Regions from separate parts of the Homo sapiens genome. Here region 1 is linked to region 2. The links come from fine-mapping of genetic effects on gene expression. Tissue or cell type: whole blood. Region 2 holds a variant in brackets; the other region holds the start of a gene. All regions are shown on one strand. Distances are from middle to middle.

Region 1 (5,000 bases), 85 kb before region 2:
GACCAACAAGGTGAAACCCCCGTCTCTACTAAAAATACAAAAAAAATTAGCTGGGCATGGTGGCGGGCACCTGTAATCCCAGCTACTTGGGAGGCTGAGGCAGGAGAGTCACTTGAACCCAGGAGGCAGAGGTTGCAGTGAGCCAAGATCGCATCATTGCACTCCAGCCTGGGCAACAAGAGTGAAACTCTGGCTCAAAAAATACATATATAAATAAAAAGAATATCCTATAAAAGTATTAAAACAGCACTTTTAAGTAAAACTCACACTTCCCTCCATTTAAGTCCTCCTATAAAGTAATATATCTATACATATTTCAGTGGGAGGGTCAGTACTTATGAAAACAAATACATACAAGTAGTTTAAAGGATAGTTTTAATATGAGTAAATGCACTTTTATGCTCAACTATTTTATACTCCAGTGACACTGCAGACCTCCCAAATTCTCTCTAGTTAAAATGAGATAACTCAGAAGTTAATACAGCCTCTACATAAGACCTTTCACCACCAAATATTTTAAGATTCTGCCAAGCATCAGGCCATAGTTATAGAATGTTTTAACTTAATGAAATTGTAGGGTATAATCTCTACAGAATGGGCCTCAAGCCTAACTAAGTGATCTCCAAAAATATGCCAACCCCTTTATCCCCCCACACCATTATGGACCAAACAATTACAGTTCCATTGACCCTCATAGCTTACTGAAGTTATATGAAAGAACGGAAAGATGTGGGTCACATTCCAATAATCAATTGTGTGACCTAACCAAAAGGACCTATTCGCTCAGTCTCACGTCCTCCACCTGTAGAGATACCTATGCTGTGACATACTGAAAGAATTAAAGGAGAGGGTGAATGAAATGTCCCCTCTATGCCCACTAGCACATGGCACTTCTCAATTCATGTTCATTTCTCCTTCTTTATTTGAAGTGGTGAAAGAAATCAGAAGCAATTTAAGACTTTTCACAGCACTGTTTGATCTCATTTCTTAATATTTTTGACAAAAACCATCTACAGGTTAAGCTGTGGAATCTCAACATAAATGCACATTTTTAGTGTTCCTTCAGCTTTACTTCAAAACCACTACGGGAATTAAAATACGGTAGGAATAATCTTCTGACAGAATAGGAATGACATAACTTTTAGAATAAATGCCCACTTCAGAGTAAATAAGAAGATAAAGGAGGTATCATCATAAGTTGATGAGAATCCTATGATCACTACCACTTTCTGGAAGTAGCTCCCAGAAATATTAAAATCTAGTAATTTTAATTGACTCAAACATCATTTTTAGTAAACATTCTGGTATCCAAAAGCATGAGACTAAACAATGATATTGAAAAGATTAATATTATTTGGAAATGTATTCCACAACTAATTTATTCTGGGCCTACCTGCAGGGATAGTCGTCCCAAAATTAAACGTTCTATAGGTACAAAGTAATTTTAAAACTGGATGTTTTAATTTCAAAACTTATAAATTTTCTGAGCCAAAGCATTCTCTTCCATGTATAGAACTAGGGTTTTAACCAAATACTTGGTTGAAAGCTGTACAAATCCAAACATAATTGAAGTCTTGATTCTGCCACTTTCAAGAGTGGGTGGTACAGATTCTTCTCATTCATAACATTAGTTTCTAGCTGATGTGGTTCGTTATTCAAAGAACACTTAACAGTCCTTCATAAAATGGTAGATTCAGTCTAAGGACTAAGAGTAGAACATTCTGGAATAACAATAACGTTTACAAACACCACTTACCATTTGGTCCTAGGTTTTCATAAAAAATTGATATAGGCAGCAGATGTATACAGAACACCCTAGTTGAGGCCAGTTTAAGTGTAAAATACCCACATACTCAAAGCCTAAGAACAATTTACTTAAGACAAAACAATGTTGGAGAAATTGCCCAATATCACAAATGTAGCAGTCACCCCTAAACAGTGTTTTTGATTAATGACAACCAATTTCCTTCAATCTTAAAGGCAACCAATTCAAGCCAGTAGGTTAAATCCTTGAAGTATACTGCAATGCTACTCCTTTTTTCCAGGGAATCAGATGAGAATTTTGTGCTAAGAACTTATCAGGAAAATGGAAGTAACGAAAATTAACACGCCAAAATATGAGTATAAGAAATATAAGCCTCCTTAATAATCAGCCAAGAAAAAAATAATCAGGTTATGTCTCCTCCCACCCATTCTTTCTGTCTTAACCTTCTGCAAAAGCCGGCTGGATTCAGAGTAGAAATAAACGAATTTTACAATGAGTCGAGTACCACCAAAAATCAAAAGTGGGAGCTTACTCGTCCTCCAGGTCTGACCCGCCTCCAGCCCGAGGCCACCAAAAGACACACCTCCCTTCCCCCAACCCGCCACAGCCGGCTCTACAGGTAACAGGCGTTTCTTCTCGCGCAGTTTGAACAAAAACAATCCAGAAGGAACAGATTTGGTTTTTTAAAAAAAATGAACAAAAGCCAAAAAAGCCACAAACACAACCTAAACCTTCTAAGAAGCTCGACTACTCCCGTTCTGCACGTTCCTTCCCAGAAGGATGCAGACCCCCGGTGTCGGCGGGAACCAGGAAGCTCTTGGGGCCTCCCTGGGCCAGACCTGCACCCGGGAAGCCGCCGCAAGGCTTCAGGAGCCCCAGGTCGCCCCAAGGCCGCGCCGCAGGATTGAACAAAGCGGCGGGTGCAGCAACCTCGGCGCTTCCGAGCGCGTTCGGGGCCGGACGCCCGGCGTCCGGCGCTGGCTCCAGAAAGGCGGCGGGTGTGGGGCGCAGAGGCCTATCTCGCGCCCTAGCCGCGGCCCGCGCCCCGCCGCAGTCCCCGGGGACGGTACTCACACACGCAGAGCTCCACCACGTACGCGTAGTAGGACCAGACGACCACGAAGGTGATGAAGAGCACCGGCACCCAGCCCACGACGCGCTGGCAGCAGCGCCACAGCGTCCAGGGCGCCATGTTCCGCTGGCGGCTGCCGAGCCCCGCGTCCCACCGTTCTGGGGAGCGCGGGAGCCCCGGCGACGGTGACTCGGACGCTCCAGGCGGCTGCTGGTCCAGCTCCCCCGCCTCCGAGGCAGGACTTGTGGGAGCAAAAGTCCGAGGCGCCGCCGGGACTCCTCCCGTCCCGGCGCCCAGCCAGGCCCCGCCCCCACCCCACATCCCGTCGCCCCCCTCCCCCCGCGTCCGTCCCCGCCAGCCCGCCCGCCGCGGGCCGCGGGCCGCCCCCGGTCTCCGCGTCGTTGGGGCGGGGTTTCCGCGGCCGGGGAGGCGGTGAGGGGGCGGGGCCGCAGCTCGGGACCGCCCATGGGGCGTGGCGGGGCTGGATGCGGACAGGCTGGGCGGACGCGGGAGGCCGGGGAAGGAGAGGCGAAAAACACGCCCTTGATGGATGAGAGGGACAGGGGATAGCTTTTGTGGATCGAGACTCAATAGGGGAGGGAGACTATGGAAATGATTCCTTAGCTGATTTGTGGATCTTGGCCCTCTCTGTGTACAGAACTCGCTCCACTGGGGTTCCTGGGACATTGAGTAGTTGGGGCACTGTTTCAAACATGACAAGGCCATTCCCCACTCAGTGTGCGAAGAATGCACATTGTTAGAAGGCTCCTCCTGTGATTTTTATGTTCGTCCATCTTGGCGGAACCCCTCCCTTTCTTGAAGATGGAACGGTAGATACCTGTAATTTCGGGTAGAAGCCATGTAGGGTCCATCAGTTTGATTCGTAACCCAAATTTAAGATTGAGTAGCGAGAAGGAAAGGGCATGTAAATGACCCTCTCCTTGCCCCGCAAACGACTAAGGAAATTTAAAGAATTTATTTACAACTAGAGGTTGCTAAGCAATGACGATAATCATATAGAACCCAGAAGCATCACTGTGAAGACTTCACAATGCAAGGTCAGACGCATTAGAAGGGATTCCAGACCGCAATCTTCATACCAGTTCCTGCTACTAGCATTCAGTTTTGGTTAGAATGAATTTTTGTGTTTGTTTTTTGAAACAGGGTCTTCTCGCTCTGTCGCCCAAGCTGGAGTGCAGTGGCACGACCTGGGCTCATTTAAGCCTCGACCTCCCTGCTAAAGCACTCCTCCTGCTTCAGCCTGCAGAGTAGCAGGGACTACAGGCCCGCCACCATGCCCAGCTGATGTTTGTATTTTCTGTAAAAACTAGGTTTCGCCCTGTTGCCATGCTGGCCCTGAACTCCAAGGCTCAAGGAATCCCAACCCCTCTCCGCCTCCACCTCCCAAAGAAGTGCTGAGATTACAGGTGTGAGCCACCACGACCGGCCTACACTGAGCTTTAAATTAGCTACTGCTCACTAAAGTCTCCATGAAGAAGACGTCACCCTTTGCTGTGTCAGAGAAATGTAGTAAAAGCGAGTAAGTATTTAATCACTGCACACTGCTGCTTGAGTAATAAAGCATGTATAAAAGATTCTGTTCTCCCTGATTTTGTGCCTTAAAAGTCATATTAGTTAGTGGCCTAGTTGACAGTAGGTTTAGGTTCAAGTTCAACTAGTTTTCCAGAGAGGCTGCTTAGGAGGGTTAGACCTCAACATAGAATTCGGATGGACATGGAAGAACATAAAGCCGTTTCTCCTCTATGTCATCTCTACGTACCAAAACCATGCTGCTAGAGCTCAGCACAAAGCCATGTCCTTTACAAGCTCCAGGGCTGCTAGAAATGATCTTTCACGACATTTTGTTTATAACCTAACTATAAAACTGTCACATTCGTTTCCTAGGGTGACTATAACAAAGTACCACAAAACTGGGGAATAATAGAAATTGGTTGTCTCACAGTTTAGGAGGGTAGGTGTCCCAAATCAAAGTGTTGGCAAGGATATTGGATATGGTTTGGATGTTTGTCCCCTCCAAATCCCATGTTGAAATGTGATCCCAGTGTTGGAGGTGGGACCTGGTGGGAGGTATTGGATCATTAGGGTGGATCCCTCATGAATGGTTTAGTGCCATCCCCTTGGATGAGGGGTTCTTTCTCTAGT
Region 2 (5,000 bases):
TGATTGAATAATATAACACCAGAATTACAGGTAAAAAGTAAATTATAAAATCTATGGAGGCAGATTTCATACCTGTCTTACTTTTATGTAGGTCAGTGCTAAACATTTAAATATTTGTTGAATGAGTAACTGAATAAACAAATCAGAAAAGATTTCACAATGTCTTCTTATCCAGGTCCCTGTCTTTTGGATAAATTATTATATCCCCACTTTACATGTAAAACAAATTGGCAAGAGGAATTAGGTAACAATATGGGCCTTGAAGGATTTATTTTCATATCTCATATAGATTTTTCAAAAACAGGTGTTAGACTCTTTGAATTCCATGACAGTAGTAAAAAGAGCCTGCGGCCTACTTTCAACACTTAACAAAACTGAATAATTATGCATGGTACGATTATAGAGGCAGTTTTGCTGCTTTTCATTATTTAATGTAGATTACAAGTTCTATTTGACATGTATATAAAAATTTGATCATCAAAAAGGAGAAAACCAGATACTTAATGCAGTTTAAGTTGTAAAAACATCTTTTTAAATTTTTTTAATTCAAATGGAATAAATAATTAGAAAATAATGAAGAAATTAACTTTTTGATTAAAAGTTTAGAAGCTAGTCTCTTACATAAAATTCATTTTTAGATTAAAAAAAAAAGACAAGGCAAAGATACTAGGAATGAACACCCGTTCTCTCCTGCTTCCTCTTTCTCTTCAGTTAATGCACCTCTCCCTGAGTATTATGAGAGGTTGTGGTGTTTCTAATCCAGAACACTCTGGCAGGGTTTTCTTGGTAGACAGTTGTCTCACCCAGGATGCTTACTCTATACTACTTGTTCATGGCTGAGCAGCAAAATAAGAGGTCCATGGTCTGACCTGCACAGCAGGAGCCATGACCTTTTTTCTCCCTACAGCAGTAACAAGGCAAGAGCATATTAAATACACCTAAGTATTTCTGGACAATATTTTTCTATTTAAGGATAAAACCCATCTGGCAAATAATCTAATTTTTCCTTCTGTTTTTGTTTGAGTTTGTTTTTTTCAATGTAGGGTAGGGGGACACTCCTGTCTCTCTTTCTTTGGCTATTTCCACATTCACACAAATAAAAAATTCAGTCTCATTATTTTCACAGCTATTTGATATGTATTCACACACTTATGTATGAAAATAACAGAATGGGGCAAAAAACAGGAAAAAAGATCTAGAATTGAGGTTGTAATGTTTCATTGTATGAATATGAAAACAAGAAAAACACATTAGGGGTTTTTGTTTTTGTAGGAGGCGGCATAGATCTTGAAGCACTAGGAATTTTGGTTCAGGAAGTAAAATGTTTTAAAAGGATTCCACCCATATTAGAGATTCCACCATGTGGTTTTCACTATTTACAGAGGATTTATGAAGTAAAATCCAGATACAGCATATCCTGTTATAGGTAAGTGAGCCTTTTAATACTTAAAATAGTAAAGCTGCATTGATACACATTAAGTGTTCTTATAGATCCAATAAATCTGCCCCTGGCCAAAATAAAGTTATTTGATAATCATAATTACAAAAACAACACCAGCACTACATAACTTAATTTCATTTTGTAGAGGTTACTAGTCTAATACATAAAAATTAGACAATAGACACATTTTCTTTATTTCATAACTTTTTCATAAATATATGTGACAACTTGGCATCAATATTAGAATCAGCCTAAGACAGAGCTGATTATACTCTAATACATGCTTTTATTCAGTCACAGCTATTATGGAAACCAAGGCAGAAAATGATGCATTAGCAAAACTAACCTTCTTCATATCACTAATAAAAGTGGTAAATGCTACAGCTAACATCATACTACAAGCTCTCAGCTTTTCTTCTAAGAACTGAAATGAGACAAGGATGCTCACCCCTTTTATTCAACATAGAACTGGAAGTCCTAGTCAGAGCAATTAGGCAAGAGAAAGAAAAATAAAGGGCATCCAAATTGGAAAGGAAGAAGTCAAACTGTTCCTATTTGCAGACAACATGATCTTATACATAGAAAAACCTAAAGTCTCTACCAAAAAACTCTTAGAATAAATGAATTCAGTAAAGTTGCAGATATAAAATCAACATAGAAAAATCAGTAGCATTTTCTATATGCAAGCAATGAACTAAGAAATCAAGAAGCAATCCATTTGCAATAGGTACAAAAACACATACACACAAAACAAATGGGAATAAATTTAACTGAGGAGGTGAAAACCTTCACAAAAATAACTACAAAACACTGACGAAAGAAACCGAGGAGGATACAGACGAATGGAAAAACATCCCCGGCTCGTGGATCAGAAGAATTAATATTGTTAAAAGGACCACACTATCCAAAGTGATCTATAGATCCAATGTAATCCTTATCAAAATAACAATGACACTCTTCATGCAAGTAGAAAAAAAATCCTAAAACTTCTATGGAACCACAAAAGACCCTAAACAGCCACAACAATCCTCAGCAAAAGGAACAAAGCTGGAGGCATCAAACTACCACACTTCCAAATATACTACAAAGCTGTAGTAACCAAAAAACAGCATGGTATGGCATAAAAACAGAAACACAGACCAACAGAACAGAGAACCTAGAAATACATCCATGTATCTACAGCCAATTGATTTTAGTTAGAAGTACCAAGAACCTAAGTTGAGGAGAGAACACTCTCTTCAATAAATGGTGCTGGGAAAACTAGATGTCCACATGCAGAAGAATGAAACCAGATCTAACCCCCTCACCTTATATAAAAATCAACTCAAAATGGATCAAAGACCTAAATGTAAGACCTCAAACTACAAAACCACTTTAAGAAAACAGGTGAAATACTTCAGGACATTGGTTTGGGAAATGATTTTATGAATAAGACCTCAAAAGCACAGACAACAAAAGCAAAAAATAAATTAGTGAGATGATACCAAACTTAAAAAATAAATTAGTGAGATGATGTAAAACGCTTCTGTACAGCAAAGGGAACAAACAAGGGTAAAAAGACAACCTACAGAATGGGAGAAAATATCAACAGCAAAAAATAAAAATTCAATTAAAAATGGGCAAAGAGCCTGAATAGACACTTCAAAAAAGAACACATACAAAATGACCAATAAACACAT[G/GAAAA]AAAAAAAAAAAAAAAAAACTCAATACCACTGATCATCAGGGAAATGCAAATCAAAACTATAATGAGGTATCGTCTCATCCCAGTTATGATGGCTATTAGCAAAAAGACAAAAAATAAACTCTTGCAAGGATGCAGAGAAAAGGAATTCTTTTTTGAGACAGGGTCTTGCTCTGTTGCCCAGGCTAGAGTGCAGTGGCATGGTCATAGCTCACTGAGTCCTCAACTTCCTGGGCTCAAGTAATCCTCTTGCTCAACTTCCCAACTAGCTGGGACTATGGATATGCACCACCAGGCCTGGCTAATTTTTTGATTTTTAGTAGAGATGAGGTCTTGCTATGTTGTCCAGGGTGGTTTCAAATTCCTGAACTCAAGCAATCCTCCCACCTCAGCCTCCCAAAGTGCTAGGATTACACTTGTGAGCCACTGCACCGGCCAGGAAAGGAACTCTTATACACTGTTGGTGAGAATGTAAACTAGAACATATACTACTATGGACAACAGTATGAAGTTCCTCACAAAACTAAAAATAGAATTACCATATGATCCAGCAACCCCACTACAGGGCATTCATCCAAAGGAAAAAACAATCAATACATCAAAGAGGCATCTGCATCTCCCCAGCATGTTTACTGCAGCACTATTCACAACAGCCAAGACATGGAATCAACCTAAGTGTCCAACAACAGATGAAGAACAGATAATGAAAATGTGGTATATGCATACAATGGAATGCTATTCAGCCATTAAAAAAATGAAATCCAGTCATTAACAGCAACATGGATGGAACTGGAGGACATTATGCTAAGTGAAATCAAGCCAAGAACCAAAAGTTAAACACCCAATATTCTCACTGATATGTGGAAGCTAAAAAAAGTTTATCTCAGCCGGGTGCAGTGGCTCACGCCTGTAATCCCAGCACTTTGGGAGGCCGAGGCGGACAGATCACCTGAGGTTAGGAGTTCGAGACCAGCCTGACCAGCGTGGTGAAACTCCATCTCTACTAAAAAATACAAAAATTGATGGGTGTGGTGGCGGGCGCCTGTAATCCCAGCTACTCTGGAGGCTGAGGCAGGAGAATCACTTGAGCCTGGAAGGCAGAGGTTGCTGTGAGCCGAGACCACACCACTGCACTCCAGCAAGAGCGAAAACTCCATCTAAAAAAAAAAAAGGGTTGATATCATAGAAGTAGAAAGTAGGACAGAGTATACTAGAGGCTGGGAAGGGTGGGAGGAAGAGAGGGATAGGAAGAGATTTGTTAAAGGATACAAAATTACCGCAAGACTGGAGGGCAAAGTTCTAGTGTTCTATATACCACTGTAAGATAACTACAATTAGCAATAATACATCACCTAGTTTCAAAGATCTAGAAGGAGGAAACTGAATGTTCTCAACACAAAGAAATGATAAATGTTTGAGATGCACATACTAATTACCCTGATATGATCACTACATACTACATGTATTGCAACATCACTATGTACCCCATAAGTATGTACAATTATTATGGGTCAGTTAAAAAAAATCAATAAATAAAACATTTTAAGTGGTAACTGAAGAAAAAAAGAGGACAAATTCAGTGGTGCTATTTTCCTTCAACAAAGTATATGGCTTGTTTATGTTTGCTGGAATATTTAAATAGTGGATGCAAAGGTAGTCTCTGGTTGTATTTTTTCTAAAGGGAAACAAATGGTTATTCCCTAAAATGCCTAAAACTGGCTTCCTTGCCAATTTCCAAAGTATGGTCTTCAAATACATTTGTTTTGGAAGGGATAAAAAGACTTTTTTTTTTTTTTTTTGCAACCTCAAGCATTGTGAAATAATAAGAGCATTATACACAACAAATTATTTAATTAGTTTAAACATGATCTGAAGGAGAAAT

Evidence for each region. PIP is the estimated chance that this variant, and not a neighbour inherited with it, causes the effect.
Region 1: it holds the start of ZDHHC20, and the variant in region 2 is fine-mapped to the expression of ZDHHC20 in whole blood (INTERVAL, PIP above 0.99).

Annotation. Positions count from the first base shown.
Region 1 is chr13:21,456,215-21,461,214 of GRCh38, forward strand. ZDHHC20 (zDHHC palmitoyltransferase 20) reads right to left here and starts at 3,089. Exons shown (of 13, transcript NM_001330059.2): 1 at 2,840-3,089. The coding sequence starts at 2,957. LOC124903131 (a long non-coding RNA gene) reads left to right here and starts at 3,333. Exons shown (of 2, transcript XR_007063713.1): 1 at 3,333-3,965; 2 at 4,169-4,432. RefSeq lists a silencer at 3,002-3,381, an enhancer at 3,245-3,414 and a cis regulatory region at 3,330.
Region 2 is chr13:21,541,396-21,546,395 of GRCh38, forward strand. The region is part of intron 2 of MICU2 (mitochondrial calcium uptake 2); the gene reads right to left. Among named protein-coding and RNA genes, the nearest start is that of MICU2, 60 kb to the right of the region's middle. The variant G/GAAAA (reference allele first, on the strand shown) is at 3,121.